Homo sapiens: one gene and its partner. The protein of the gene in region 1 purifies or fractionates together with the protein of each later gene. This does not show direct contact. Each region holds a gene or a part of one and is shown in the gene's direction. Other genes may lie near its edges. The genes, in order: NSG2 and CCDC51.

Evidence for each region.
Region 2: the proteins of NSG2 (region 1) and CCDC51 purify together in Homo sapiens (affinity purification with mass spectrometry; one large-scale study listed by BioGRID and IntAct). This does not show direct contact.

Annotation. Positions count from the first base shown.
Region 1 is NC_000005.10:174,101,206-174,104,705, forward strand, and holds part of NSG2 (neuronal vesicle trafficking-associated protein 2), read left to right. Parts: intron 1-3,022; coding exon 3,023-3,133; intron 3,134-3,500.
Region 2 is NC_000003.12:48,431,194-48,434,437, reverse strand, and holds the end of CCDC51 (mitochondrial potassium channel), read left to right. Parts: intron 1-461; exon of another isoform or gene 462-566; coding exon 567-731; intron 732-1,271; coding exon 1,272-2,030; 3' UTR 2,031-2,265; downstream 2,266-3,244.

The DNA of each region.
Region 1 (3,500 bases):
CACCACTTAGGAAATTGGCTCCCTGTCCCTAGGGCAGAGCTGCAGGTGCCAGGATGCTGCCTGAACTCTGGGCATTTATTTTTAAAAACTAAGAGAAAACTCGTGTAACATAAACATAATGACTTTAAAGTGAGCAGTGCAGTGGCATTTAGTGCATCCATAATGTTGTGCAACCATCACCTCTGTCTAGTTTCAAAATGTTTTCATCACACCAAAAGGAAACCCTATACCCCTTATCAGTCATTCCCCATTCCCCCAGACCCCCTAGTCCTAGCGGGCTCCAGTCTGCACCTGCCTCTGTGCATTTCCTCATTCTGGGAGTCTCATCAGATGGAATCACATGACATGTGGCCATTGGCGTCTGGGTTCTTTGGCTCAGCATCACGTTTGAAGGGCCGTCTGCATCTGCAGCTGGTCCTTCATTCCCTTTCATGGCTGAATAACATTCCGCTGCATGGATAGACCACAATTTGTTTATTCATTCATCAGCAGATGGAAATTTGGGCTGTTTCTACCTTTTGGCTATTGGGAAATCTGAGCATTTAAAATTTTTTTATATCTCTACTCCAAACACATGTTGATCATGTGTTCCTAGGTCCTCAGCATTTGTGAGTCGTGGTCTTGGGTGGCCTCCTTTCCTGTACTATTCAAATAGGAGTTTCCTAGGGTGCATATGTGTCTTCATGGTATCTCTTGCTTTAAGTCCAACTTCTCTTGATTTCTCCACCTCAGCTCCACCTCTTGCCTGTGTGATACCGGACTGATCTCTGCACCATCTCATCCCATACTGTTATCACTCCAATCCAGGGCAGGAGGCTGATAAGCATGCAACAGGCTTCAACTTCTGGCTTGGGGTAATGGAGAGAATGGACAGCACATGGTGTCAACAGTAGCTTAAAATTGAATGTTACACAGTACTGTCCTAAAACTTCATATACACACTCATTAGGAATTGCTCATGGACGGTGTCTGCCCATGAGATTTGGACAGAATCCTCCCGACATCCATCTTCCTCTTTTCCTTTTCAAATTCCTCCCGTCCAGTATTTAAAACTGCCAACAGACAACTCCATATTTTTGGAGCAATGTAAACTCCTGTCTCCTCCTTTCCTTATAAACATGCCCTGGGGTGGGAAAGAGATGGCATGGGCACTCCCAAAGTTAATTTTACTCTTTTTCTGAATCAAAAGGAACCTTTCCTCCATGAGAAGAATCCTGCCATATTTCTAGGCCAACTGACTGAAAGGGACACCAGCTTTAAAAAATAACACACACACAAATTCTGCTTGTAATATTAGATGCCCCGGTATCATGGGGACTTCCCTGCCCCCTTGTACATAGATGGTGGGATGGGGTCAGTGCAAGCCTAGAGGTGCCTCTGAAGTTAACCAATTACTGGTTTCAGATGAATCCTGATGGTGCCCCCACTTTGTTTGGTGTTGTATTATTTTTTTTAAAGGTTGCTTTCAGATAGTGGATAGGAACTGGGTTATATTTAAGCTGGAGACCACTGCAGGCTTTCGAGCAGAAAAGGGCCATGCTTTGTTTTTTTTATTTATTTATTTATTTATTTATTTATTTATTTATTTATTTAGATGGAGTCTCACTCTGTCACCCAGCCTGGAGTGCTGTGGCACAAGCTCGGCTCACTGCAGCCTCCTCCTCCCAGGTTCAAGCAATTCTCCTGCCTCAGCCTCCCCAGTAGCTGGGATCACAGGTGCCTGCCACCACCCTGGCTTTTTTTTTTTTTTTTTTTGTATTTTTAGTAGAGATGGGCTTTCACCATATTGGGCAGGCTGGTCACGAACTCCTGACCTCAAGTGATCTTCCTACCTCGGCCTCCCAAAGTGCTGAGATTACAGGTGTGAGCCACTGCACCTGGCCCCTGCTTTGTTTTAGATTTTACAAAGCTCTCTCTGGTTGCTGTGTGCTGAATACACCCTAGAGGACAAGGAAGTCGTCACTAGTTAGAAGGCTGTTAGATGCTGTAGGTGAGAGATGATGATGGCTTCCACCCGGTTGGACATGATTGAGGTGGTAAAAAGTGGTCAGATTATGGGTGTATTTGAAGGCAGAAATGATCGTTTCTTCTGGTAGATTGGATGTGGTGTTTGAGAAAAAGGGAGTCATGGATGACTTCAGGATATTTGGCCTGAGTGACTGCAAATGTGAAATTGACATATTCTGAGATGAAGAAGAATGCAGGTGGAGCAGGTTTGAGTTGGGAGGAGAGCAGGAATCCTGTTTGGGAATGTGTTGAAAGTGTGTATTAGATGTCCAAGTAGAGGCGAAAGAAGCAGTTGATGTCCGAGGTTGCAATGCACCAGTGCTGGGGCGCGGTGGGGATGTAAAGCAGGAAGCACTGGAAGTGACAGCTTAATGATCAACTCCCCCACATCCCACATAGTTATCAGGAAAAGGAAAATGAGGGGGAAATCACATGTTAAATCAGAAAGGAGTGGTCGGGTGCAGTGGCTCATGCCTGTAATCCTAGTACTTTGAGAGGCCGAAGCAGGTGGATCACCTGAGGTCAGGAGTTCAAGACCAGCCTGGCCAACATGGTGAAACCCTGTCTCTACTAAACCCTGTCTCTACTAAAAAATACAAAAATTAGCCAGGTGTGGTGGTGGGTACCTGTAATCCCAGCTACTCGGAAGGCTGAGGCAGGGAGAAGCACTTGAACCTGGGAGGTGAAGGTTGCAGTGAGCTGAGATGGTGCCATTGCACTCCACCTCTCCAGCCTGGGTGACAGAGTGAGACTCCATCTCACAAAAACAAACAAATAAACAACAACAAAAAAAACCAAAACAAAAAAAATGGAGCTTCAGAGATTATCCTGCAGAAGGGGGAAAGAGGCCCAAAGACTGCAAGTTAGTAACAAAGCCAAGACAGAGCCAGTTCCTTGGGCCTGTCCCCCTTTCTAGCACACCATGCTGCCTGCCAGTTCTAGGCTCTGAAAGCTGCATACGGGGACTGAAGGTGGGCAGACTGAGGCTGGATGACTTAATTTTGTATTCCTCCAGGTCACCATCCTTGTCAGCCTGGCCCTAGCTTTCCTTGCGTGCATCGTGTTCCTGGTGGTTTACAAAGCCTTCACCTATGATCACAGCTGCCCAGAGGGATTCGTCTATAAGGTAAGAGGTGGTTGAGTAGTCCCAGGTCACTATCAAATTCAGTTAGAGGGTTGATCAATGTCTTCTCTTCACTGGTGTCCAAATTCTGGGTATGACGACCTCTCTACCGACTGTTTAAAATGGAATATGTGTTTGGCAAGGAGTTTCCAAGTTTTCTTGAGGGACTCAGTCTCCAGTAAGCAGTAGAGTTCCTCCCCCAAGATGGTGCTCTCCAGGGTCAGGAGGTGGTCCAGCTTGGACGGCACATCAGCAATGAGGGAAGCAGCTCACTACCTCTTGACATGGACTGTTCCATTTTGGGAAAGCTCGGCTTGGTGCGGGTCTTCCTGGCTCAATGGCTGTTTGCTTACCCTTGCAGTGGCCTTCC
Region 2 (3,244 bases), on another chromosome or scaffold:
AGAGCTGGTGGTGGTTGTCAAGTCCTTTGTGGTGGCAGAAATGCATTCTGTCATCTCTGTTCCCACTCCTGCTTAGGCATGTAGTAGTGTAGCGTGGTGGGAAGAACCTGGGGTTCAGCTGGGACTTTGAGACAAACAGTGCCATCTCTTTCCTTGGAGATTGTGAGCTTGGCTGAGCTGGTGTTTCTGGGTTTATAAACTGGAGGCCACAGCAGTGCCTTTCATGGCATTGTTATAAGGCATAAATAAGGCAACACACGGGAAACAGCCTACCAACACAGGTTTGATGGACACAAATTGTGTGCATTGTTAGCTGTTTTCAAGTTTTTTCAGGGGCATGTTATTTCTGCTTGAATGGCTAAATCTCGTGATTCTGATGGGTGTGGCCCAAGGCTGCACTTTGAGCACCACTGGGTGAGCCAGGATTAGTGTCTAAGGAATTCCGTTTCCACCCTTTGCAGCTCACACCCCAGTGACCTCTTCTGGGAATGCCTTGCTGGGAATGCAGCTGAGCCTGTGTGGGTGTGGAGAGAAGGTGCAGATGGCCTCCGGTTTTCTCTTTGCAGGCTGAGAAAGTGTTCATGGTGGCTCGAGGGCTTGTCCGAGAGGCTCGGGAGGACTTGGAAGTTCACCAGGCCAAGCTGAAGGAGGTGAGGGACCGCTTGGACCGTGTCTCCAGGGAGGACAGTCAGTACTTGGAACTGGCTACTCTCGAGCACAGGATGCTGCAGGTAGGCACCTCAGGAGGCAGCCCTTTCGCACCTGGACAGTGACCCTAGCCTGGCAGATCATGGAGGGGCCGGGTGGGAACCCTGACTGGTCTGTAGTCAGAGGCCTGGTACAGAGGTGAGCCAGAAGCTCCTATGGATGGACAGAACCCCAAGCTTCCAGAGTCTATCCATATACTTTCTTCTGGAGTACTGGGGCCAACTCTTCAGGGCAGCGTAGCCTGGGACTCAGAATGCTGAGGAAGGAGAACTATGGAGGGGCTGGCCTAGGGAGTGCTGGACACTTCCCTTTGTGTAGACATAAGTGCACCTCTGGTCAAACCCAGAACTGCTCAGGTGGGACGATCATGCAACTCACTTTGATCACTCCCAATTCCTTTGCCCTTCTGACCCAGCCAGGTTGGTGCTACCTTCATTCATTCAGCATGGGTCTATGGAACATGTACTCTGCCAGGCACAAGGTAGTGAGCCATCTGCTGGTGGCTATAGCTGCAGGGCCACCTTGTGCCCATGTAATCCAATAACATGGCTTTGCTTCTGCAGGAGGAGAAGAGGCTTCGCACAGCCTATCTGCGTGCAGAAGACTCTGAGCGAGAGAAGTTCTCCCTCTTCTCTGCAGCTGTGCGGGAAAGTCATGAGAAGGAGCGCACAAGGGCTGAGAGGACCAAGAACTGGTCCCTCATTGGCTCAGTCCTGGGGGCCCTGATTGGTGTGGCTGGCTCCACCTATGTGAACCGTGTGCGACTACAGGAGCTGAAGGCTTTACTCCTGGAGGCGCAGAAGGGGCCTGTGAGTCTCCAAGAGGCCATTCGAGAACAGGCGTCTAGCTACTCCCGCCAGCAGAGGGACCTCCACAATCTCATGGTGGACCTGAGGGGCCTGGTACATGCTGCTGGGCCAGGGCAGGACTCTGGGTCACAGGCAGGTAGTCCCCCGACCAGAGACAGAGATGTAGATGTCCTTTCAGCTGCCTTGAAAGAGCAGCTTAGTCATTCCAGGCAAGTCCATTCATGTCTAGAAGGCTTACGAGAGCAGCTTGATGGCCTAGAAAAGACTTGTAGCCAAATGGCTGGGGTGGTTCAGCTTGTAAAGTCTGCAGCACACCCAGGCCTGGTGGAACCAGCAGACGGGGCTATGCCCAGCTTCTTGCTGGAGCAGGGGAGCATGATCTTGGCACTGTCAGACACGGAGCAGAGACTAGAAGCCCAAGTCAACAGGAACACCATCTATAGCACCCTGGTCACCTGTGTGACATTTGTGGCCACACTGCCTGTGCTCTACATGCTATTCAAAGCCAGCTAACCCCTGGCCCCTCCTCCAGAGGGTCTGAGGCAATAGCTGTGAATGTGGATTTAAGTAGAGAATCGTAGCAATGAAGCGAGCCTTTGGGGGCATGTACAACCTCAATCTGAAGGAGCAGTATCTGTGTGGCTCACCAGCAGGCATGCTTCGCTTTGTAGACAAGGTTCATTTACATTAATTATCAAAACTTTGTGCTAATGTCCAATTAAAATATCCTGAGTTTTATTATTTAAAACAATCAGACTGAGTTTTTTTCATTAAGAATCAAGATCCAAGACTTGAAGGTTGGGCCTGGAGTTGGGGTAGTCACCCCCTTTAGTTCCTCTCTCATCTCCTCTCTGTCCTCTTTTCTGAACTGTTATGGATGCACTCCTGAGGCCTAGATTTTCATTTTGGATTTCCTCCAGTTACCTGACTGTCCGGTGTCAGATGGCCTGGGAGTTCCAGTGAGTGGAACCTAGCCTGCTGCCTACTCATTTCGTGACCATGGTTGCTTCCCATCTCCTGGATCACTTTCTCTACCATGTGGGGGAGAACTTCCTGGTTCTAGTACTGGAGGAGTGATCAGAGGAGAGCAGGGAAGGGAGATTGGGAGAATGGTTGATAAATGTTGCTGGGGACATAAGTATAGGGATTGGTGGCCAGTCTGGATCCCTGGTACAGAGATTGCTTTGGGCAGCAGTGGTGTGCCACGGGGGCTGGGTGCACACCCCCACACAGCCCGGGGATATCTTCCACAGGCATAGGCAGAGCTCAGGACACCGGGAGTGTGCATGGAGAGGCAGTGATAGGGAGGGGGGGGTCTCCCACAGGTGGGAGGTGCAGTGGGGCATATGTATGATCTCTTTTCAGAGGGGAACAGTGACCCTTGACCTTGACTAAATGGCCATGGGTGGCCTTGTGTGCCCTGAGTAAACAGGAGCTTTGGGCTGGTATTCAGTCCTGGTGTTGGAGTATTGGAAGTCAGGCACATTCCAGAGAACCCACTCCCCTTTGAGAGCGCAGGGTAGCTATATGCAGGGGGGCCGCAGGTGGGGACTCGTTCACTGGTGCCTGTGCAGAGCTCTCAGAGCCTGTGGAGTCAGGAGTGTTTCCCATAAGGCATACTTTCTTCTTGGAGCCTGTGTTCAGTCTTGGGCAGTGAGCATGGCCCAAATGCCCCCCACCCCAGGTTCTCAGCACCTGGTCCCTCAGTCAATCTATCCTTGGCGAGT